7 linked regions of the Homo sapiens genome follow. The protein of the gene in region 3 purifies or fractionates together with the protein of the main gene of each other region. This does not show direct contact. Each region holds a gene or a part of one and is shown on either strand. Other genes may lie near its edges.

What was found.
Region 1: the proteins of GPR107 (region 3) and SCFD1 purify together in Homo sapiens (affinity purification with mass spectrometry; one large-scale study listed by BioGRID and IntAct). This does not show direct contact.
Region 2: the proteins of GPR107 (region 3) and TVP23C purify together in Homo sapiens (affinity purification with mass spectrometry, with the first as the bait; one large-scale study listed by BioGRID). This does not show direct contact.
Region 4: the proteins of GPR107 (region 3) and ECHDC1 purify together in Homo sapiens (co-immunoprecipitation; one large-scale study listed by IntAct). This does not show direct contact.
Region 5: the proteins of GPR107 (region 3) and KIAA0930 purify together in Homo sapiens (co-immunoprecipitation; one large-scale study listed by IntAct). This does not show direct contact.
Region 6: the proteins of GPR107 (region 3) and ARFRP1 purify together in Homo sapiens (affinity purification with mass spectrometry; one large-scale study listed by BioGRID and IntAct). This does not show direct contact.
Region 7: the proteins of GPR107 (region 3) and PIGG purify together in Homo sapiens (co-immunoprecipitation; one large-scale study listed by IntAct). This does not show direct contact.

What each region holds. Positions count from the first base shown.
Region 1 is NC_000014.9:30,628,819-30,632,318, reverse strand, and holds part of SCFD1 (sec1 family domain-containing protein 1), read right to left. Parts: intron 1,843-3,500; coding exon 1,754-1,842; intron 1-1,753. UniProt on the Homo sapiens protein: Plays a role in SNARE-pin assembly and Golgi-to-ER retrograde transport via its interaction with COG4. Involved in vesicular transport between the endoplasmic reticulum and the Golgi.
Region 2 is NC_000017.11:15,553,484-15,556,983, reverse strand, and holds part of TVP23C (Golgi apparatus membrane protein TVP23 homolog C), read left to right. Parts: intron 1-1,619; coding exon 1,620-1,702; intron 1,703-3,154; coding exon 3,155-3,299; intron 3,300-3,500. Other genes in the region: TVP23C-CDRT4 (uncharacterized protein LOC100533496), read left to right, coding at 1,620-1,702, 3,155-3,299.
Region 3 is NC_000009.12:130,137,285-130,140,664, forward strand, and holds the end of GPR107 (protein GPR107 isoform 3 precursor), read left to right. Parts: 3' UTR 1-2,880; downstream 2,881-3,380. UniProt on the Homo sapiens protein: Has been proposed to act as a receptor for neuronostatin, a peptide derived from the somatostatin/SST precursor.
Region 4 is NC_000006.12:127,333,610-127,337,109, reverse strand, and holds part of ECHDC1 (ethylmalonyl-CoA decarboxylase), read left to right. Parts: intron 1-3,500. UniProt on the Homo sapiens protein: Decarboxylates ethylmalonyl-CoA, a potentially toxic metabolite, to form butyryl-CoA, suggesting it might be involved in metabolite proofreading. Acts preferentially on (S)-ethylmalonyl-CoA but also has some activity on the (R)-isomer.
Region 5 is NC_000022.11:45,230,895-45,234,394, forward strand, and holds part of KIAA0930 (uncharacterized protein KIAA0930), read right to left. Parts: intron 1-3,500.
Region 6 is NC_000020.11:63,698,147-63,701,561, forward strand, and holds the end of ARFRP1 (ADP-ribosylation factor-related protein 1), read right to left. Parts: intron 2,557-3,415; coding exon 2,456-2,556; coding exon of another isoform or gene 2,452-2,455; exon of another isoform or gene 2,385-2,451; coding exon 2,297-2,384; 3' UTR 501-2,296; downstream 1-500. Other genes in the region: TNFRSF6B (tumor necrosis factor receptor superfamily member 6B precursor), read left to right, coding at 134-417. UniProt on the Homo sapiens protein: Trans-Golgi-associated GTPase that regulates protein sorting. Controls the targeting of ARL1 and its effector to the trans-Golgi. Required for the lipidation of chylomicrons in the intestine and required for VLDL lipidation in the liver.
Region 7 is NC_000004.12:523,210-526,709, forward strand, and holds part of PIGG (GPI ethanolamine phosphate transferase 2, catalytic subunit), read left to right. Parts: intron 1-249; coding exon 250-704; intron 705-1,961; coding exon of another isoform or gene 1,962-2,029; exon of another isoform or gene 2,030-2,595; intron 2,596-3,500.

The sequences.
Region 1 (3,500 bases), on a different chromosome or scaffold from region 3:
AATGCTCATTATACAACTGAAGAATTTGAGCTGATTAAACCAGATTCTGTCAAGTTACTTATCGAAAATCTAAAACTATATTCCCAGTAAGAGTACATTTCAATTCAATATATGATATCATAAAAATTGGTTATAACATCATAAATAGAACAAAATGCAAATAGCTTAGAACACCATAAAATTGGACTCTTTTAGTATACAGAAGTATTAGTATCTATCCATGAACACAGTCCTTCTCCAAACGTTCTTTTTTTTTTTTTTTTTTTTTTTTTCAACAGAATCTTGCTCTGCTGCCCAGGCCAGAGTGTAGTGTCACGATCTCGGTTCACTACAACCTCTGCCTCCTGGGTTCAAGCAATTGTCCTTCCTCAGCCTCCCAAGTAGCTAGGATTACAGGTGGGTACGCCACCATGCCCAGCTAATTTTTGTACTTTTAGTAGAGACGGGGTTTCACCATGTTGGCCAGGCTGGTCTCGAACTCCTGACCTCAAGTGATCCGCCCACCCGGGCCTCCAGAAGTGCTAGGATTACTGGCATGAGCCACTGTGCCTGGCCCCTTCTCCAAATGTTCTACTAGGCAAGCCCATAAAGTACTGCATTTGTTTTATTTTTATTAAACATATCAGAAGCAATATAATCACACAAACTTAACAGTTAAGACAACACAGATAGCCCACTATGGTGATTAACAGTCATTACTTCATAGTCACTTAAATTTTTCATATTAATGATTAATTAGATATTCCTTTTTTTTAAAAAAATATAGACACTCCCTGACTTACAATGGTTCAACTTAGGATTTTTTGACTTTATGATGGTGCAAAAGCAGTGCATATTCAATAGAAATCATATTTTAAGCACCTATAAAAACATTCTGTTTTCAACTTTCAGCACTGCAGTCAATAAATTACGTGAGATATTCAACAGTTTATTTTTATTTTAATTAATTAATTTTTTTTAAATTTTGAGACAGAGTCTTGCTCTTTTGCCCAGGCTGGAGTGCAGTGGCACAGTCTCGGCTCACTGCAACCTCTGCCTCCCGGGTTCAAGTGATTCTCCTGCCTCAGCCTCAAGTAGCTGGGATTACAGGTGCCTGCCACCATGCCTGGCTAATTTTCTGTATTTTTTTTAGTGAAGATGGCGTTTCACCACGTGACCAGGCTGGTCTCGAACTCCTGACCTTGTGATTTGCCCGCCTTGGCCTCCCAAAGTACTGGGATTACAGGCGTGAGCCACCGTGCCCGGTTTTATTATAAAGGAGGCTATGTGTTAGATCTGACTCTGCCCAACTGTAGGCCAATGTAAGTATTCTGAGCATGCTGAGGGTAGGAGAGGCTAAGCTATGATGTTTGGTAGGTTAGGTGTATTAAATGCATTTTTTTGACTTACAAAATTTCAACTTATGATGGGTTTATAAGTATGTAACCCCATTGTAGGTCAAGGAGAATCTGTGTATTTAAATTAAAGGAACAAAACACTTTTAGAGCTGGAAGAGACCTTAAGATTACTAGTTCTTTTCCTTTACATAGAGGGTAAACCAAATCTAAGGAAAAGCCACAAGGCAGAAAATTTAAATTCTGAAATTATAAAGCCTCAGACTGAGGATTTTTTTAAATCCCAGAAATAAGGGGTTGAATAAAGAAGATACAGGGAAAAAATGTTCAATACTACATAAATACTGTAACCTAACACTATTTTTCTCTATAAATGTTCTTTAAATGAATACCACTATTAGAAATATGTAAAAACTCACAGATGCAGAGTGATTCCCATGTCTCTTAGCTCCTTCACAGATAGCAGAGGAGAGATTATATCTTGGCCAAATCTGTCATAAATGAGTACCTATTAAAAAAAACCATGTGTCATCATTATCAGTGAACAACCAATAGTGAACCTATATTAAGACAATGTTGAAGTAAATTTTATTTTAATACATCATATATACTGAATTGTTATCCTTGCCTCAATTTAACATTTTCCATCATTATCAGTGAACAACCAATAGTGAACCTATATTAAGACAATGTTGAAGTAAATTTTAATACATCATATATACTGAATTGTTATCCTTGCCTCAATTTAATATTTTCCATCATTATTTACCCAAATGTCCATCCAGGCAGTAATACGTTCTTAAAGCATTACTACTCAGGCTAAAATAAATAATTATATCAATTTCTTCTTATAAAATTCTTTTTTCTAGGTTTTAAAAAAATAGAGACTATAAAATCCTTAAGCTATCATAAACTTTGAACTTAAAGCCAATTCACGTTCATACCCTTATTTTTTTTCCAGTTCACATATATCTTTTCTAAAAACAGAGATGTAAAAATTAGCCATTTTCAAAACTAATATATAACAAGTTCCAGGACCACAATAAAAAATTTAGTATTTTAAGCATCTCAGGTTAAAAAGATACTCATTAAAAAAAATTAAGTCCCTGGCTGTGGCACAGTGGCTCACGCCTGTAATCTCAGCACTTTTGGAGGCCGAGGTGGGCGGATCACTAGGTCAAGAGATAGAGACCATCCTGGCCAACATGGTGAAACCCTTTCTCTACTAAAAATACAAAAATTAGCTGGGTGTGGTGGCACGTGCCTGTAATCCCAGCTACTCTGAAGGCTGAGGAAGGAGAATCACTTGAACTTGGGAGGCGGAGGCTGCAGTGAGCTGAGATTGCGCCACTACATTCCAGCCTGGCGACAAAGCGAGATTCCATCTCAAAAAAAAAAAAAAAAAAATTAAGTCCCTAAAGAGTATTTGATAGACTTAGTCTATCAAATACACTTCCTCACATTCTCAAAGTATTAAAACAGACAGCTTTGAGGTGTGGTAAGAACTCCAAATGGGCTTTTTAACTCAAAATTAGTTTCACGGTTAAGACAAATAAAAGAGATCCTCAACTGGTAAGCATTTTTCACAACTACCTCAATAATTATTTATGGAGTAAGAAATTGTTAATGAGAGAATGAAACATGTTGTTATGAAAACACATTTTCTTAAATGCCAGGATTTCCTTTAAAGAGGCTAAAAATCTTTCTGCTCTAGTTATAAAAGGTTCACGTTGCATCTTTCAAAAATCTTCCCTCTTTTAATCTCAATACATGTGTATTATTAATTTTAATGATATAAAAAGTGATGGGTAGGAAAAGTATCTGACAAAAATTTGTACCCAAGAAATTCTCAAACTATTTCAACCAAAAGCTCAATATTGGTCTTAGAAACAAGCAAGTATAGTTTATGCAAGAGGCAATAGGAAGATGCCCACAAAGGAACAAGAAGGAGAAAATTAGGGAATACTCTGGAGCTTAAACTATGAAATCAATACAGACAACTTTAACTACTTTTAGAGTTAACCCAAAGGACTTATAAAGACTCAAGAGAGTTTTCAAAACACCCTAAATTCTAAACATGTTGATTTGTTCTTAATTTTTAGCAAGAGAGAAATATAAAGAGACTGTTAACCAGTAAGTTTAAACCCAATCAACTGTATTATAACA
Region 2 (3,500 bases), on a different chromosome or scaffold from region 3:
AGTGCTCAACAGTGCTCAATGAAGACAGTGTCAGAAGCAAGTAGGGGGCATTAGATTCTGTGATCTTCTATGCTTTATGTGAAGGAGTTAAATTTTATCCTATACTTGTAGGGATGCCATTGAAAAATTTGAGCAGTAGAGTGACATGGTGTGATTTCCATATTGGGAGGATTGCTCTGGGTAATGTAAAGGAGAGGCTGGAATAGAGAGGGATAAAGGCAGGGAGGCTGGTGAGTGGCGCTAGGAGAGGAACAGGATCAGGTTTGTTGTAGTTGAGGGGAATTGCAGTGAATTGAGGTGTGAACCACTCTTAGAAGCCTAAGGTTATGGGGCCGGGCATGGTGGCTCACGCCTGTAATCCCAGCAATTGGGAGGCCGAGGCGGGTGGATCACAAGGTCATGAAATCTCCTGGTTAACACGGTGAAACCTGTCTCTACTAAAAAAATACAAAAAATTAGCCAGGCATGGTGGCACGCGCCTGTAGTCCCAGCTACTTGGGAAGGTGAGGCAGGAGAATCACTTGAACCCAGGAGGCAGAGGTTGCAGTGAGTTGAGGCCACGCCACTGCACTCCAGCCTGAGCGACAGAGCAAGACTCCATCTCAAAAAAAAAAAAAAAAGCCTAAGGTAAAAGGAAGCAATGCTTTGGGAAGGTAGAGGATTGAAGAGGAGATTCAGGATCAGGGTTCTTAAAAAAATCTTTTTTTGCCTAATAAGTGGCCTTGAAGAAGTTTATATGCATATGCTGATTAGAAAGATTCAATAGAGGCCAGGCGTGGTGGCTCAGGCCTGTAATCCCAGCACTTTGGGAGGCTGAGGCGGACAGATCACCTGAGGTCAGGAGTTCAAGACCAGCCTGGCCAACATGGTGAAACCCCGTCTCAACTAAAAATATGAAAATTAGCTGGGTGTGGTGGCACACGCCTGTAATCCCAGCAACTTGGAAGGCTGAAGCAGGAGAATCGTTTGAACCCGGGAGGCGGAGGTTGCAGTGAGCCAAGATCGTGCCATTGTACTCCAGCCTGGGTGATGAGCAAAACCCCATTTCAACAACAACAAAAAAGAAAGATCCAATAGATAGACTTGAAGATAGAAGAAAGTGTAAATACAGGGGAAAATGATGAAACAAATCCCCGAGGAGGCATGAAAAGAAGTTATTCTGAGCACAAATAATTGGTTTAGCCTTGGATAAGAAGAGGAGGAGTTGTGAGAAGGGGTCATGGAACTAAGGATGCAGTCAGATGATTTTGTGAAGGAGCCAGAAACCTTGAGATTATCCCCAGTAGCCTCGGCTTGCTCTGTGACTTGGGAGAGAACAGGTGAGGAGGACAGGTGTTAAGTTGTAGTAGCCTCATCTGCACCCCAGAGTTTTCTCAGATGGTGCAGCCTAGGGGCAGGGATGGAGGAGCTGAGACTTCGATTATTCTCTGGGGTTTTTGCCAGATGATTTGAGGAGGCGGGTGGAGGATCTGCATGTGTCCTTTTCTAGGTTTTGAATTCCTGATGCTGTAACCACATTATTTTATCTTCTATTTTGATGAGTATGCAGCTTTGCATTGCAGTGGCTGTGTAAACACTGAATTTTGTTTTGCTTCTTGACCATTTATTTTTCCAACCAGGATAGTAATGATGACACTGAAGATGTTTCACTGTTTGATGCGGAAGAGGAGACGACTAATAGACCAAGAAAAGCCAAAATCAGGTAGGAGGAGAAGTTGCATGAGCTGTGTTAGTGTCCAGTGTTGTTCTGTATGTATGTCAGTGCTAGCTGATGGGAGTCAAGGCAGAGTTGTTTCAATGTGCTTGTGAATACTGCATGTTGCTAATTTAACATTTAGTGTAAGACAAAGATGACATTTCAGATTTTCTTGTGAATAATTGGCATACTTAATACTGAGTTTTAAAATCAGCAAATCCAATTATTTGAACACCTGTGTTTTTAATTCTGTGCTATTTTCCAAGAATGTACCATTTCTTTATATAGTTTCTGTAGATACTTTACATTTTGATTTATTGTGCACATTTCAAAATCACATAACATTTCTATTCTAAATTTAATTCTCTCTAAATAAATTCACTTATCGAAAGCAAATTCTACTTGAACCCTGCTAAAATGCTGTTTTTTACTTTTCTTTCATCTTTCATGCCAGTCACAAAAGACCACATATTGTATGATTTCATTTATATGAAATGTCCAGAATAGGCAAATCTGTAGAGACAGAAGATAGATTAGCTGTTGCTAGAAGCTGAGGGGTTTGAAGGTAAATGGGGAATGACTGCCAGTGGGTGCAAAGATTCTGTCTGGGGTAATGAAAAGTTGTAAAATTGGAGTGATGGTTGTACAAATCTGTGAATGTACTAAAAACCATTAGATTGTTTACCTTAAATAAGTAAATTGTATGATATGTGAATTATATCTCAAAAAAGCTATTAAAAAACAAGAAACAGGCTGGGCGCGATGGCTCACGCCTGTAATCCCAGCACTTTGGGAGGCCGAGGCAGGTGGATCACGAGGTCAGGAGATTGAGATCATCCTGGCTAACATGGTGAAACCCCATCTCTACTAAAAATACAAAAAATTAGCCGGGCGTGGTGGCAGGCGCCTGTAGTCCCAGCTACTTGGGAGGCTGAGGCAGGACAATGGCGTGAACCCAGGAGGTGAAGTTTGCAGTGAGCCGAGATTGCGCCACCAAACTCCAGCCTGGGCGACGGAGCGAGACTCCGTCTCAAAAAAAAAAAAAAAAAAAGAAACAAACAAACTACCTGATAACTTTGTCTTAATGTCTGAGTGATTTCTGAGGGCTAAGGAATTCTTTTGGCGTGATTTGAAAATAGGATTCAAATTCTAAGATACGGTTTCCTTATTTCTCCAAGAGAGGTAAAATTCTTTATTATCTATTTTGTGAAAGTTTATATTCAATGAGGTGTTAAAGTCATCTGTGCATAGTGTATTTTCTGTCACTATAGGGCCTAGTCAAATAGTGGGGCTTAAGAAAAAGAGAGCTAGGAGGTTTGCTTCCTCCTACTAAAGTCACCTCTTTTATTTTGACAAAACTCTTCACAGTTACACGATGGCTAAAACATTTTTCTCTACATTTGCTAGTACCTGTAGTAAAATGTAATTGCATTTCTTTCATTGTGTTTTGGTTTTCAGACATCCAGTAGCATCGTTTTTCCACTTATTCTTTCGAGTCAGTGCAATCATCGTCTGTCTTCTCTGTGAGTTGCTCAGCAGCAGCTTTATTACCTGTATGGTTACAATTATCTTGTTGTTGTCGTGTGACTTTTGGGCAGTGAAGGTAATTTTGATTGTTTTTATTTTAAAATTATATTTAATATGAAAATGATGTATAAAAATATGACAGCATTTTGCATTATTGTTAATCTTTTGTTACTTCAAACCTCATCTGTGTTGAAGTGCTAGATATATCAAATTGCATGTAGTTTTTTTTTTTTTTTTTCATTTTTTCCCTTTGACAATACAAGATGAGACATGTAGG
Region 3 (3,380 bases):
TGGACAAGCGCTGGAGCCGCAGCCCTCAGACTGGCACGGGAACGCCAGCGTTGGGTGTTCAGATTCCACGCGTATGTCTGGGCTCACTCACAGCATGGCCGAGTGTCTGCAGTGCTGGTCCTGACCCTTCCAGAGCAGCAGTGGACAGATGAGATAAGACTGTTTCAGAAACAAAGATGGCCACAGCCTTCCTAACAAGCAGGTCATCTGGCCATGTCTGTATTGTAACTGGTAAAAGGCTTCAAGTCAGATTGATGATCAAGAAAAGTCAAAACCCCAGCCCAAGATTGGGAAAGCAGGTGGTGGTTCCAAGCTTTTAAAAAATTATTGAAGCTCTCCATCCTGTTCTGTGAGTGTGTCTTCTCTTTCTCCTTCACGTCATAGCCGTGACCCACCGTTCATCTCTGCTCTTGCGTAAAGATGACCGATGGAGTCCAAAGCCAAGTGGCTTCACCAGCTGACAAGCCACCCTCCTGCAGCCTGAGTTTCACAGTCCACTGGGTTCGTTGTCATGCGGTGTTTGAATGGTTAAGCCCTTGCAGTATTTCAGATCGGGCAAAAAATATCGGATGCACATAGCAGAACCATTGGTGGTATTTATAGCTTTGCTTTGTACTCCTCACTGTTTCTGCCTACGCAAAATATCCATGTTTCCTCTGAGAAATCTGTTGTGGACTGAAAGCGCTGCTGGCTGTGAAATTTAATAAAGTGTGTATGCTTTGCTAGAAAATTATTTCTTGGACAATAGGAACAGTCATTGATCTGTAAATCCTGGCTCTTAACAGTGAGTGGCCAAGGACTTGATCAGCCCATTTCTTGGTCCCTCAGTGCTTTAAAATTTAAGTAGCACTGCATTTTGTAATGTTGAATATGACTCTAGTGACTTGTAGGAGGCACTTGTGAGGAGATGCTTGCTTCAGTGTAAAAGATGCTCATGGCCTGAGTCAGTTGAGTTTTCTTTCAAGAAACCACTTCAGAGTGAAATATCCAGGGTTTCCCCGCCCTGGACATGTCCAGCCTGCCCAGGCAGCACACAGCCCTGTAAGTCCACCTCGTGTGGGTGAGATTTCCTCCTGCGTGATGACCTCATCGCCATCTCTGCTGTCTCATTCCACAGCCTCCCTCCCTCTTCTCTCCTCCTCTGCCCTCGCCCTTCCCCCTTCCCCATCCCCTCCCCCTCCTCCTCTGCCCTCGCCCTTACCCCTCCCCCTTCCCCTTCCGCTCCTCCTCCCTCCTCCACCTCTTTCTCCTCCTCCTTCCCTCCTCCTCCCTCCTCTTCCCTTCTCTGCCATCTTTCTCCCCGTGCCTATTGATCCCACATAGGCTCATTCTGGGTACACCGGCTAAAGGCTTTGGTGCATTGCAGCGTTTTCTCCCAGCAGCTGTGTGAAAGATGCATTTTCTAAGCTAAGGAGAATTTTCTCAAGAGTGGCATACTCATGCCAAATATTATTGCTCTGGGCCATATAGGCTGGTCTTCCTCCACACTAAAATGGGTGTCTTGTTTTGGTACTTAAAACAGTCTACTCCAGGCATCCAGTCCTTACAGACCAAGGAAGAGCATAGCGATGCCTGTTGGAATTGCAGATGCATTCTGGCCTTCTCCCCCGTCCTGAAACATTTTCTTTGAGGAAGGCTCTTAGAACATTAGATAGTCTGCTGAGGTTGTTGGCCCAGCTCCATACACCCAGTAGAACAGTGGAACAACTCATGCTTCATGCTGCCAAGCTGCTGTACTTCAAAGGAAACAGATCTAGCACACTGCTGCACCCCTGCTTCCACACTCCACACTTCACCCCGCTGCTTTTCTCTGACCCGCCCCTGGCCTTGTAAGACTCACGTAAGCTAAGTCCAGGATGCCTGTGGCCTGCGGCTTGATTCTTCCCTTTAGGATTCAGCAAGTTAATGGCTTCCTCGCTATAGAAGTGAGACTTTGACTTGATGCCTCTTGGTATATCAAAAAGATATTCATCCAGAAAGTACCAAATGTTCTGAAAGACCCGCTCTTCACTCCAGTTTTCCCTAGGGTGTTTCTGGCAGGGCGTTTTTAAAAGGCATCTACCTGAGTTGACGCTAATACTTGTCACCACCTGGAACGTAGTTATCGGTCGGCAGGCTGAACATACTCCAGATTCCCCAGAGGCCACTTCTGTAGCCCAGCGATGCATCTGAGCCTCTCTGCGTGGTTTATGCTTGAAAAATAGATAATGCTTTTAGATGGTTCACTGCCAGGCCATGGGCCCCACACATCTCAGGCCCTGTGTGAGGGAGCACACTGAGATGGTGCAGGAGTGAATGGGCATGGCTTGGCCTCGCTACCTCGGGGACCTGTTGGAGTTCTGGCAGCAGGGTGTCTGCAGGTGGGACGGCGTTCTGGGCAGAGTCAGAATGGTCAGAATGAAACAGAACAGCCAACTCACCCACAGGACAGCTTATTTTGAGGCAAGGTTTTGGATTTTGGAGGAAGCAGCCAGATGAGGCGGTGAGCCTCCAGAAGGTCAGCCTTTGGAGCACGTAAGATACTGTTACAGGGTCCAGAAATCGTGTTCACATGGGGGCTTTGACTCTTCAAACAGCTTTTGCAGATCGTAAATTGCATTTGCCTAGTCGTGTGACCTCAAAAGAAGTCAGACATATTTAATCCAGAAATAGTTTCGTTTGAGGGAGGGCTTGCAGGTCTGTAAATAGCATTTGCTTTCCTGGTTAGAGATTGGGATGCAGAAGGAGTTTTCAGTATTTTTTTTAAAACACTAATGATCATTGAAGAGTATTTATGTAAACATACAACGTATAATGGGTGGGGGATCCGATCATGGTGATGTACGGGGTGAATTCTCTTGCCGTGTTGCAAATGTGTAAAATAAAGATTATCTGGCAGAACCGTGTGTGTTTGAGATGCAGGGAGTTGCCGGCTCCTGGTGCTGTCTCTCCTCCACCTCCATCTCATAATTTTTTTCTTTGTGATTTTTGTTCATTAAATTAGTTAACTGCCTCCCACCAGCTCCTACTGACAATAGTGACACCTACTAGAGAAGTTCCAGGCATCTTAGCCGATCTGTGGCAGCGCAATTAAGACCCAGATAACTGAAAACCGGTTGTAGGTTACTGCTGTCCTGCTTACGCTGGAGGCGGGCGATGTCTTGTGAACCAGTGTCGGGGCACTGCTGCCATTTGAGGGGAGATGGCAGGCCTGGCGCAGAGCCCGCACTGTGACAGGCGCAAATGCACCTTCTGCATCGGTTAGCAATAGCTCTGGGTTACCCCATGTTGGAAGCAGAGAAATCCAGGATTTTAGACTCAAAGCATTTTTAGAAGTCATTCAGTTCCAAAGCCCATATTTTACTAAGAATGTTTTAAACTGAGGCATATTTTACCTACAG
Region 4 (3,500 bases), on a different chromosome or scaffold from region 3:
CAGAGTCAGATTGAAAAGTAAGTCACAATATACAGGGTTAAATAAAACCCATCTGATGAGAATTTATGGTTTGTAGGGCATGACTCCCCAGACCCCTTAGGTGGGAATTTGGGCAAGATTAAAAAATCAGAGCTTAGTCCTCAGTGTGGTTAACCAATTTGTTTCAAGCCCCATTGCTTGGCATTTCTCAATAAAGTCTGAAATTTTTAGTTTAAGTTGCTTCCACTAGCTAAGAGATTTTGAGGCAACTTGATATTTACATTTGAGTGATAACTTAGAAAGTGTCTAAAATCCTTGGTGTTTTTTTCATAACCACTTCACACTTTGTAATTGGTAACATTTTATTTGTAAAACTTTTCCCCGCTTCCATTTTCCGTAGACTTGAATTTTCTATGCTTATCACTTTATTTCTCCTTCAGGGTAAAATATTTAAAAATACAGTTCTGTGTGCCTTAGAGCAAGAAAACTCTCAACCACAGAATTTGTCCTTGCCCAGGAAAGTTTTGCTTTCCAGTTAAAGAGAGAGTTTATTTGACCAGGATAGCTCATTTTCCAATAATGGTAGATAACTAATGGTAATAATTTCAGAAATACTTCCTTTCCATAGACAGAACTTTTACTTCCCTTTGGGAAAGCAGGGAAATAGGTCTTTGAACCAGACTGCAGTTTTGGGTAATGGAGCTATATAAGGGAAAGAGATAAGTTAAATATGGGGAATAATATTCAGTGAATGAAAATAATATTTGCAGGAACATTATTTCAAGTGAATCATTTGTTTAAAATTAAATAATCTATTATTTAAGTATATGGCAGTAATTTTTGGCATTTAAAAATTTTATTTAGTTTCACAGTATCCTCTCATTCTTCTACATGCCCGGTAATTTTATGTAGTACTGGTAAAGTACCTATTATTGCACTAAATTAGGTGGTGAGAACATCTGTGATATAAACTTTCATTCTGCCTTTATTGTGTCACTAAACATTTCCATGTTCTAATTAGATTCTTTTATTTTGAAGTTTATTTTAAAAATCTTGCAGGGTACCTTGAATTAACTGAAAATATCCTAGAATGTTGCAAAATCATGTTTGATCATTGTTCCCTCTAGCTTTCTAGTTCTTCAGGAGGCCTTAGATACCTTAAAATCTGTTAATACCATAGAATCAGTTAATACCGTATCATTTTCTAATTTGACAGAACAGGTGATGGGATGGAAGGATGTCTCATAAGTTATACTGTATGAGTTTTGGAAAAGGAGTATGGAATTGCCAATAGATGAAGACATTAAAGTATTGAAAATACTAAATATTTAGATATTTTGCAACTTGTAACATTTGACCACTTTCCTTATTAGTTGCTTATTAGTTTTGTATATCACATTGACCCAAACCTTATTAATCACAATTCATTAAGTAGGTCACCCAGTGCTTTCATTATTCTTTATTCGGTAACCATAGCTGCTGGCAACTGGTGACTTTTTTGGTGGGAGGGAGGGAGGATACAAAGAAAGACGATAACAGATTTGAAATTAAGGGAAAGAATAAAGTTATGACAGTTAAAAGCAGGTCCTATCAAAGATTTATGATGGCAAGTTAGAACATCTTTTTTTTCTTGGAAAAATAACATCAAGTTTTTATTCTTAGATACCATTTTTTAAGATGACAAGCACCCCGCTACTTTTTTTGTCACACTCTAAAATATAATGCATTAGGTCACAATTTATCTGAGTTACACTTCAGTCTCCTTGAGGAGATTTAAGAAAGGTCTTGGTATCTTCAATATTGTAGTTATAAGCCACCTTAGTTGGTAAAGTTTTGAAATACTGTTCTCAAGTTTTTGAAATATATGTGTTTGAGGGGATTACATCCCACTGTGTGTTCAGGTAAGTATTCATTGGAAACACTTTGGTAAAAATGTCACTTGAAGGCCATGTGACTTAAAGTGGAAACCAGATATTGTATTGTAACCTTTATATGTTCTCTGTCAGTTTCTGATACCATTTTATAACTCACATATTAGATATATTTTTAAAGCTATAAAACAAGTTTGTGGCATTCCTTTTGGCTGCGTGATGAGTTATTTTTTTTACTTGCCTACATTCTCCCTCATTAACTATTAAGTAAGTACCTTTTATGTATTAAGTACTGTAGCCACTAGTGACACAAAGTATGTACCTCAGAATACTCTCAGGAAGCATCCTTCCAACTGAGAAAAACAAATGAAAAATTGAAATGATTTGAGGAATGTGTTAAAATGGAACATTATTGCAGTATACTGAGCTGGGATAAATAAAGGGAGTGATTATCTTTACTTGGGGAATCACTTTTAGGTGGAAATATAGAAATTCAGTTTTTAAAAATGATTGGGGATTTACCAGGTTAATGAGGGAGGAAAGAACAATATAGGGGAGAAGCAATAATATAAAATAGCATGGTAAATTTGTGGGACTCTGGTTATTTGGTGTTCTGTATTGATTGTGTAGAGATATCAGACGAGAAGAGATTCAGGATTTAGGTAAGAATTTAAAAAAAGCTTTGGACTTGATCCTTTTGGTAGACAGCTACTGAGAAACCTTAAATTTGAAATGTCCTGATTGGATTATAATCATATCCACATTACTCTAAAGAACAGTATGCTACTAACTGGTGACTGTTGTATTAATTCAGATTATATGTAATGAAGTTTGAACTGTATTAGTAATAGGAGAGGGAAAGATCAGAAGGAAGTAACCATTTTGGAGGGCCATTGCATACGGACCTCCAAATAGTGGTGGAGAAGGAGACTGGGTTGATTTAGAGGTTTTCTGGCATAGATTACAGGGTTGATGATACAATGAATAGTTCAGGGAAAGAAGGAGTAATGGGTTTTACGTGAAGTATGAGTTCAGGATTAAATAATGATTTTGAGAAGCCTATGATAAATCTAGAAATGAGGGGTAAGGGATTGCATTTCTGTTAGGCAATACTAAGGAGTACAGGCATAAGGTCTGAATTAGAGATAGAAATGTGAGATTCATGTCTTGTAGGTTTTAGGAAAGTTGTGAGCAGAAGAATAAAAGATCTCTAACAAATTAATAAAAAGGCAAATAAATAGAAATAATGGGCAAAAAGCTTGCACAGGAACTTCACAAAAGATGATATGCAAATGACCAATAAGCATAAGAAAATGGGGTTTATCTTCGTTAGACATTATAGAAACACAAAATGAAACCACAGTAAGATACCATCCACTAGAATGCCTAAAATAGAAAAAACAAAGAAGAAGTGATACTTGTGGAGCAACTGGAGCTTTCACTGCCTGTGGGAATATACATTTGTACAGCTATTTTAAAAAACTGACAGTATATTCTAAGGTTGAGCAAATGCATACATTATAACTGGTGGTATACTGGTAAACTGTGTGTGTGTGTGTGTGTGTGTGTGTGTGTGTGTGTGTGTGTGTGTGTAAGAGAAAGAGAGTATGATTGATATGTCATGTAGTCCCACCATGGTCAATTTCAAGC
Region 5 (3,500 bases), on a different chromosome or scaffold from region 3:
TATCCAGTCAGACTCCTCCACAATGACCCACTTCTTTATCAAACCTAGCATAGAAAATAAACAGGTTGAGGCTGGGCACGGTGCCTCAACATACCTGTAATCCCAGCACTTTGGGAGACTGAGGCAGATGGATCACCTGAGGCCAGGAGTTCAAGACCAGCCTGACCAACATGGTGAAACCCCATCTCTCTACTAAAAATACATAAAAATCAGCCAGGCATGGTGGTGGCCGCCTATAATCCCAGCTACTCAGGAAGCCGAGGCAGGAGAATCGCTTGAACCCAGGAGGCAGAGGTTGCAGTGAGCCAAGATCTGAGACTCCGTCTCAGAAAAAAAAAAAAAAAAAGAAAGAAAATACACAGGTTGAGCCCATTTCTTTGGATTTTCACTTCCTTATGAAGGCTCCTGTATCATGTAAAACTTACACTAAATTATACTTTTCTCTCTTCTGCCTTTTGTTATAGGAACCTCAGCCATGAACCTAAGATGGGAAGAAAGATAGTTTTCACCTCCTACATTGGCAGTGGGGCCTGAAGATCCGAGGGATGTCTGGGCTTGTCCCAGCGATGTGTGTGAACAGGATACAGAGGCAGGGGTGGGAAGCCAGAGGCATGAACAATCAGCCTGTACCTGCCTGCCACCACCCCCTCCCCAGGGAGGGCCAAGCTCCCAAGAGTCAGATCAACCCTAATTCAGCACTGCATTTCCAGGGTTCAATATATATGACCTCCACAAATGACACAATGGTGACTACAAATACATAAAAATGTACACTCAGACAGGGGTAAAAACTGCAGAGAAGGTAAGAAATTAACAGGCACACCAGGCGCAGTGGCTTATGCCTGTAATCCCAGCACTTTGGGAGGCCGAGGCAGGTGGATCACAAGGTCAGGAGATCAAGACCATCCTAACATGGTGAAACCCCGTCTCTACTAAAAATACGAAAAATTAGCTGGTGTGGTGGCGGGTGCCTGTAGTCCCAGCTACTCGGGAGGCTGAGGCAGGAGAATGGCGTGAACCTGGGAGGCGGAGCTTGCAGTGAGCCGAGATCGCGCCACTGCACTACAGCCTGGGTGACAGAGCGAGACTCCCTCTCAAAACAAACAAACAAAATTAACAGGCACAAGGGTCTTGAATGGCTGTTGTTGCTGGAAAGGTGCCTATGAAGCAAGGTTTCAGAAAGAACCAGAAGGGAGAAGCCTAGTCCAAGGCCACCTCACCCCAGGTCCACCTATCACTCTGAGGCCTGGTCCCCCTCTGTAAATGGGACAACACCCCTCCTGCCTTCTGCTCAGCACTGCTGTGAGGACACACGAGGGTGTGCAGGGCAGCACTTCTCTATTATAATTACATGGATAATCCACACGCTTCATAACATGTGGATTTGTATTCTGCTTTTCTCCCTTTCTCTGCCATAAGTGTTGCTCCAAGTGTGAAAAGCATTTTTCAAGATTCAAAGCACATCCCAATACAAAGCCCTTTTACATTAAAGATAATGGACACGTGGAGTAAGGGAACTCTGCCTGTTGTTCACCTGCCTCGGTCTCCTCACTTGCACCACGGGGCAAGAGGCAGCACTGGTGAGATCAGGCAGCCAGCCCTCCTGATTCTTCACCCTGTTTGAGACAGTCGGGGTCCACTCTGAGTCTCCCCTGTCTGTGTCAGTGATAGGGCTAGGCTGGTTGAATTCTGGGACTCTCTCCATCCCAGCTCCCCCAGGACGGGCTGTGACCCAGAGGGCATTCTGCTGCCTCAGCCGAAACTGGGACACTGGGAGCAAACTGCCCCCCTACCTTGGGAGGGTAGAGCTCATCAGGCACAGGAAGCCTGGAGTCACATCTTCTCCCAGGAGAATGCCCATCCTGCAGAGTGGGCTGGGTGGGGACCGGCTCCAGGGGAGGCTGGCCCACCGCCTCTCCATGTGGTGGGGCTGAGCCAGGGCTCTGTATGTGACCTCAGCCTCCGTTTCCCTGATGTGCAGAGTTCGGCTTTGACTCAGGGGCACAGGTATCTCTGGGGGTGAGGAAGGGACCCCGTGGAGTGTTAATTTTCCCACCCACCCCCGCCAGGTGTCAATGTCGATGACATTAAGGTTCATGCTGTTGGGGCTCAGGTGGATCCAAGGACAGGTGGCTGGGAGCAGGCCAGATCAGGAAGGTGGAGGAAGGCATCACAGCCAGTCCCTCCTGCTTCTGAGCCTCAGTGGCCCCATCTATCACATGGGGGCAGGGGTGGTAAACAGACAGCCCAGTGGCCACCAACTCAGGCTGACACACCCAGACAGAGGGAACGAATGAATTACACCACAGACTCCAGGGCCCCCCAGGAGGACTTTCACTCAGATGCCCAGGTCGGGGGAAGGAATGGGCATTTTGTTTTAAAGTTCCCCAGGGTTCTGTGCTCTGGACACGGTGTGGTACAGGGTGGGCAGACTGAGGCAGGCGAGGTGTTCTAAGGAGTGGAGGCTGAGGTTCAAGTGGAACGGGTAAGCACAGGTGCTAGGCCGAGTTCCCCAGCACAGGCCACGCAGGGCATGCAGCCCCACTTCCAAGGAGTCGGTAGGCCTGGGTGGGAAAGCTCCCCTCAGCACAGCAGCCACAGCCATAAAGGCCCAGAGGCGGGCATCACCTGGAAAGTGGGAAATCACATCCAGTCAAAACACGCTTCTACTTCAGCTGCAGAACAGCCCGGGTGCCCACCCGGGTGGCAGGACCTTCACTAGGCTGACTCACCAGGGGACCTGGTGGCTGCTCTCAGGACGCTGGGAGGGTGGGCAGGACAGCCGGGTTTGGGTGATAGGCAGTGAGCTCTGCCCTCTTAGGAAGCTGAGTGCACCAGACCCAAGCTGCTGGAAATGACCGAGGGAAGGTCTACTCAACCCTCTGAGCCTCTGCTTCATCCCTGTAAGACACGGGCTAACTCCTACCTGACAGGGGTTATGATATTAGATGACGTATTGTTTACAAGTCCCGCTTGGCCCTGCCTAGCCCAGCACCGCATGCAGGAGGGATCAGAGGTCCAGAGGGACAAGGGCCTCCAGAAGACAGAAGAGCGGGGCTGGGGCTGCACAGGAGCTGCAGCTATGCACCAGGGCTTCCCCAATCCCACAGAACCCTTAGCGGGAGAGCCTGGACTGGGGCTTGCAGAGCTCCTGTCTACAGCAGTGACAGGGAGAGGCTGGTTGAATTCTGAGACCCGGGGGCCTTGGCAGAGGCCGGGCACATGTACTGACCCTGAGGGGCAAACGTCTCTGTTGTCTCTGAGGCCCGGCAAGCTGGGGTGGCCTGCAGTGAGGGGTGACCAGGAGTGGAAGGTCAGTGTGCGTGTGGGTGCCGTTGGGGAGCTGGCCTGGCCTGTGCTCAGGGCTCAGCTCCCAGGCCTCATGGTCCTCCGATGGGGAAGAGGGGGCCTCTGCTTCCTGCTCGGGGAAGACAAGCCTGAAACGCCAGGGGGAGAGCTCTCAGGTAAGAAGACAAGGTTGGAGGATCACAGACTGGCAA
Region 6 (3,415 bases), on a different chromosome or scaffold from region 3:
CACGGCTCACTGCACAGGGATTTCTCTCTCCTGCAAACCCCCCGAGTGGGGCCCAGAAAGCAGGGTACCTGGCAGCCCCCGCCAGTGTGTGTGGGTGAAATGATCGGACCGCTGCCTCCCCACCCCACTGCAGGAGCTGAGGAGTGTGAGCGTGCCGTCATCGACTTTGTGGCTTTCCAGGACATCTCCATCAAGAGGCTGCAGCGGCTGCTGCAGGCCCTCGAGGCCCCGGAGGGCTGGGGTCCGACACCAAGGGCGGGCCGCGCGGCCTTGCAGCTGAAGCTGCGTCGGCGGCTCACGGAGCTCCTGGGGGCGCAGGACGGGGCGCTGCTGGTGCGGCTGCTGCAGGCGCTGCGCGTGGCCAGGATGCCCGGGCTGGAGCGGAGCGTCCGTGAGCGCTTCCTCCCTGTGCACTGATCCTGGCCCCCTCTTATTTATTCTACATCCTTGGCACCCCACTTGCACTGAAAGAGGCTTTTTTTTAAATAGAAGAAATGAGGTTTCTTAAAGCTTATTTTTATAAAGCTTTTTCATAAAACTGGTTGTAGTTGCACAGCTACTGGGAGGGCAGCCGGGGACACCTGAGCCGCCCGCTGTGCCCAGATCCCTCAGGCTGCCTGCCATCAGAACTGCTGCCCGGGGCTTCCCCTACCTCAGACAGACCCTCCCTGGGAGGATCAGTGGGGAGTGCCACCTCTGCCCCCAGTGGCTGTGGCACGTGGCAGGGGCCCCTGAAGCTCAGCGAGGGTCAGGGCCTGGGAGGGTATCATTGCTGGAAGAACAGGATGGGGCTCAGGCCAGCCCTAGTCGCCGGGGCCCACACTAACCCCCCACTTATGAATTCCTCCCACTCCCAACTCACAGGGGATTTCCCGAGAGGGGACCTGCCAAAGACCTCCTCCAGGCCTCCCATGCTTTCCGGGAAGTGAAGCTTCTCCCTCTCTGGGGCAGGCTCTGAAGCCTCCCGATGCACCCAGAGCAACCGGGGGGCTGCACCAGCCACTCGCCTCCCCAGCACGGCCAGGTTCCCGGGGCTGGAGGTCCCCCCCAGGTCCTGGGAACCAACCTGCAGAACACACACAGGGTCCCCTGGAGAGGACGCGGGGACTTCCAGGGCCCGACTCCTGTGAGTCACAGCCCCGCAGCTGCTGCGCCACCCCCACCCTGACTCATGCCCCTTCCCAGCAGCTCCTCCCAGGACCCCATGTCCTTCCCACATCCGCAGGAAGGGAGTGCCTGGACTCTCCAGGCCCACCTGGGGAGCCCCTCACCTGCCCACCAGCCCCTGAGCAGCCCAGTAACACCATCACCGTGTCCAACAGCCAGGAGCCTCCACCCTCCAGGAGGGAAGGGATGGACAGAGCCACACTCGCCGTCTTTATTTTGCACTCACCCTGGGTGACACTGGGCAGGCCGCTCCTGCCCACAGCCAGACTGAGGAAGAACACAGCACTCGGCAGGCCCAGTGGGGTCCGTGCAGGGAGGACCCCAGGACCAGCCTTACTCCCGAGCAGGGGACACAGGGCCCCACAGAGAACCCCTCCGGGAGGTTCTCTCCTGGCTGGGGGAGGGCTCTGGACCCCCACAAACACTCCCCAACTTGCGGGGCTGGGGCATAAAAACAGCCACTCCCAGCAGGCCCCCTCAGCTTTTTGCATCAGTCAGCTCCCTCCCGGGGGATTAGGGTGAGGTGAAGCCAGGCCCAGGCGTGGGGTATAGGTCTTCCCCCGCAGGCCTCAGCCCTGTCCCGAGGCTGCATCACAATCCAGGGCCCCCGCTGGCCTTTGGGAACATGGCCTGGGTCTTCCTCAAGGCAAGATCAGCCCCAGACCACTTCCGGGGTCACGGGGTCACGGGGTCACAGGGCAGAAGCCAGATGGCAGCCATGGCTGACGGGCCTCCTCCTCGATGGGGCGGAGACAGCCACGGGGTCTCCCGAGGGTCCCACAGGGCTGTCCTCATGCAGCCCAAGCCAGCCTGAGCACTGGAGCCCCAATTCCCAACCAGGTCTCCCTCAGACCCCCCAGAAAGGGCCTCGAAAGGCCGCCGCTGCGCCCTGTGGAAAGGCTGCCGCTGCAGGGCCTGGGCCAGCCGGGCTGCCAGACTCCCCTCCAAAGCCTCCGGATGCCTACGCTTTTCCAGACATAGAGGAAAGTTTGTCTTCGAGAAAACAAAGTAAATAGAAGAACCCCAAAGCAAAGCAAACCCACCCCCCAGATCAGCAGCATGGGAGCCAACAGGAGGCCACTCCTCCAGCACCAGGGGACCAGCCGTCCCGACGGCAGCGCGGCTGCGCCTACGTGATGTCCCTCTGCCGCGGCGGCCGGTGCACATTCCGCACGACACACTTCACCATCCACTCGATGCCCTCGCGCACCCCTTTGCTGTGAAGACAGCGGGTGTGAGGCGGGGGGTCTCGGTCCCCAAAGCCCCCGCAGGTGCAGCCCCCACTCACCCTGTGAGGGCCGAGCAGGCCTGGGTCAGGCAATCTCGCCTGCCGATCTTGCTGGTGCAGTCGCTGAAGGCCGTCTTGATGTCAGGGATTGAGAGGCACGTCTGGGGGAGGTAAGGCCGTGAGGAGCAGCCCCCACGTCTGGCCCTGTCCTGCCTGTGGGCCCGGGACTCTCAGAAGGGCGTATGCCCTTCACCCCAGGGAAACAGCCAGAGCTCCACCAGGGTCCCAGTGTCTCCCACAGAGACCACAGCAGTGAGGACCCTGTGCTCAGCCCGAGGCTGAACATGGCTGGTAGTGCCTGAGACAAACTAGACGTCCACACGGCTCCAAGGAGTCCACCCCCCATCCCCTCCCTGGGGGACACCCTGAGCCCCGAGGTGGGGCGCTGAGGACTGAGGCCTCCTGGGCAGTGGCGGAGGCAGGTCCCAGGGGCCCACACAGCCGGGGATGATGGAGAGGTGGGAGCCCTGCATCAGTGATGGAGGCAGTCTGCAGTCATGGTGGCTTCTGCTCACAACCACCTGCCCAGTCTTCAAAAAGCAGCCCTCCCCTCCCCTTTTCCTCCGAGGGGAGACCCCTGCCCCGTACCAGATGTCCCTCTTGTCGGCTGAGATTGTAGGGGAGGCCAGCCTTACAGGCTGGGGGCAACAGAGCCACCCCAGAGAAGGCAGGAAGTGAAGATTCACCTGGCCCTCTGGACGCCGGGCTGCTTCTGTGCAAAGCCACTCCAAGAGAACAGCTAGAACTCAGCGTGGCCAGTGCTCCCGGGGGCAGTGGCACCTCAGAGGGGTCTTGAGGGGCTGCCCTGGGGGTGGGGCTGGCACAGATGCCACCTCCAAGGGTAGCAGGAACAGGTAAGGGTCAGAGCTGACTCCCACCAGGGCCCCAGCATCACTTCTTTGAGCTCTGAGTTTCACCTGGGTGTCCCCACAGCTTGGCCACACACTCCTGAGACACGGC
Region 7 (3,500 bases), on a different chromosome or scaffold from region 3:
TGGCCGTGCAGTGTCCGGCTCCCCTGCCTGGGCTGAGGGCGTCTCCACTCCTGCAGGCTGCGTCCCAAGAGGAAGGTTCCTGCCGTTGGAGCAGAAGGGGGCTGTTCCAGAGTAGGGGCCCAGGTGCTGGGTGTGAGGAACAATGGTGTGTGTCCAGGGCATTCTCTGCTGTGAGCAAGGACTTGACATGCAGCAAGATGTGTGTCGTTATCAGACCGTCTCTTACAAAGTGCACTTTCCTTTTCACAGAACCCCATGCATCCCAGCTCAAGGTGGTCAGAGCTAGACCTTCTTATTCTGTTGGGGACGGCGGGCCACGTCTTGAGCCTGGGCGCCAGCAGCTTCGTGGAGGAGGAGCACCAGACCTGGTACTTCCTTGTGAACACCCTGTGTCTAGCTCTGAGCCAAGAAACCTACAGAAACTACTTTCTGGGAGATGACGGTGAGCCTCCGTGTGGCCTCTGTGTGGAACAAGGGCATGACGGGGCCACAGCAGCGTGGCAGGACGGGCCTGGCTGTGATGTCCTGGAGCGAGACAAAGGCCACGGAAGCCCCTCTACCTCCGAAGTGCTCAGAGGCCGCGAGAAGTGGATGGTGCTGGCCAGTCCGTGGCTAATACTGGCCTGCTGCCGGCTGCTGCGCTCCCTAAACCAGACAGGTGTGCAGTGGGCTCACCGGCCTGACCTCGGCCACTGGCTCACCAGGTGAGAGCGTAGGCCCGTGGCCACAGGCCAGACTTTCTACGGCCGATTGGTCACCTGCCAAGCTCTTCTTTTTCTAAATTGAGACCATTTTTCATATTAAGAATGGGATAGTATTTGAGATCTGAAGAATTGGGAAAATACACTAAAACCAGTGTTTTACTGGATACTAGAATCAATGTTGAGAAGTGAATTTATTTGGGGGCTAGCCTAACAGGTTTCATTTATTAGTGCTGAACCACTGTAACTGTTCATGATTGAAAACTTGTGTTTCAGTGATCATTATATAGTAAAGATGCTATGTGGGGGTCAAGCTTGCTAGTGGCTTGTTCTGGACGCCTCGTCCATGCCTGGGCTGTGTGCCCCCCGCCCATCACTCAGTGTCTGCCTGTGTCAGGCCATTCGTGTGTTGCTATAAAGAAACACCTGAGGCCGGGTCACATGTAAGGAAAGAGGTTCATCTTGGCTCTCAGCTCTGCGGGCTGCACAGGAGGCATGGTGTCGGCATCTGCTCCTGGAGAGGCCTCAGGAAACTGGCGGTCATGGCGAGGGCAAAGCAGGAGCCAGCACTTCACGTGGCGAGAGCAGGAGAAAGAGAGGGATGAGGAGGGTGTCCGGCACTTTTAAACATCAGCTCTCTTGTGAACAGCCACAGCGAGAATGCGCTCATTACTGCGAAGATGGCACCAAGCCATTCGTGAGGAATCTGCCCCCATGACCCAGACGTCTCCCACAAGGCTCACTTCCAACACTGGAGGTTCAGTGTCTTTTTTTTTTTTCTGAAACGGAGTTTCACTCTGTCACCCATGCTGGAGTGCAGTGGCACGATCTTGGCTTACTGCAATCAAGAGATTCTCCTGTCTCAGCCCCCTGAGTAGCTGGGATTACAGGCGCCCGCTACCATGCCTGGCTAATTTTTGTGTTTTTAGTGGAGATGGGGTGTCACCATGTTGGCTGGGCTGGCCTTGAACTCCTGACCTCAAGTGATCCACCCACCTCGGCCTCCCAAAGTGCTGGGATTACAGGCGTGAGCCACTGTGCCCAGCCTGAAGGTCCAAGTTCAATATGAGATTTGCAGTGGACAAACATCTAAGCCATGTCATTCCCCCAGACCCCTATCCTGCTGCTGATGATCCCCAGGGCAGCAAGAAGGACGGGGTCAGCCAGGCAAGGCAGGCGCAGCCTCTGTGGGCCAGCTTTGCCCTTAGCAAAGCTCCTTTCTCCTCCCCATCCTCCCTTTTCTCTCTCCTCATCCTGAAGGGACAGAGCCGTGTGGGGGAATTCAGCCACCTCCTGAGCCTTTCATTGGCGACTGGAAAACCACCTAGAAAGTATAGCAAATCATTTCAAGCAAGGCTCGAAATAAGTAGAAGAAACCAGGACAGAAAAATAACTAAGATTTGCCGAGACTTAAATTTTAATTGTCTGGCAGTGAAGACTTAGGAAACTAAAGCAAAAGAAGCAGCACAATGAGAGCATCTGCGGCGAGAGTAACAGCAAGGGTTGCGGTCCCGTCACTGCAGAGAACTCCTGTAAGAAATGGCAGCAGAAGGAAAAGGGAAATGCCTAGTCCTAGTAATGAGGGCACTTCCAGTTAAATGACAGGGTGTGACTTCATACCTGCTGAGGCAGAGAAGCAGAATTGAATGACGAGACTCAGTCTTGGTGAGCACGTGAGGATTCCTGGGGCCACGTTAGTGGCACAGTTCTTTTGGAAGATACTTGTAAGTTTACATCAGAAGCTGCGAAATTACAGATTCTTCTGATTAAGTAATTCTTGTGGGAGGCTAAGCATTAACTAAATTACGAAAACCTCGGTTAGCCAAGTCATCGCAGATGGGTCCTTCTATCTGCCTGCTGTGTGCCTGCACGTTTCCTTTCCAGAGAAGCCCCGGAGAGGGGACTTTGGTTGGTCCCCACTCCAGAGGTGAGGAAGCGGAGGGGGGACGGGCTGCTGGGAGGTTGTGCGGGGCACGCCAGCATCGGGGTGGGATCCCAGGCATGTAGAGCAGCCGGGTGTGTCAGGGAGCTCCGTGTCCCGGAATAGCACTTTGACACCTTGTTTCTTACTTTCCTGGAAAATTAAAGCATTAGGAAAGAATTGGCTGGCTTTCCGCCCCACATGCAAGAGCCACCCCCAACCGCATTATCCGCGGTTTTCCTTACGCGAGGTCAACCATAGTCTGAAAATATGACAGTTATTTTGAGGCAGCCCACATTCATATAATTTCTATGACAGTAACAATTATATTGTTATAAATGTTCTATTTTATTATTATAACAATCCTGAAGATTGTGTAAAAACGCGTGCCATTTAAAAAGCAACAATACACAGACACCCAGGTACCCCTTCCCGGGGTGAGGCCCAGGCCCCCGTGTGGCCCCAGTCTCCCCGTCATCCTGGGAGGCTTTGAAGCGGGAGCTGCAGTGAAAGAAACAGAAGGGAGCCCGGCCTTCCCCACCCTCACACAGGCCAGGACTGGCTGGTGCTGCACCACCGCATCGCGGTCGGGACTCCGGGCTCTGCCCTCTGACAGGCCGTCAACCTCTGCACCATCTCCTCACCCAGGAGCGGGTGACAGCAGACCCTGTGAGGCCATGTGGGTCTAGGGACGTATCATGCGTTACTGAGTTAATGGGAGGAGGCAGGAGAGGGGAGGTGAGCTGGTAGGTGCAGGGCTGACCCCGAGAGGGTACCAGGGAACAAGAGGACGGTTTCTATTTGTCACCGCCTGGCCTCTGGGCATCCACATCTGATGGTGGGAGACCCGTTTGTGAATGAGAAGTGAGAGTTCAAGT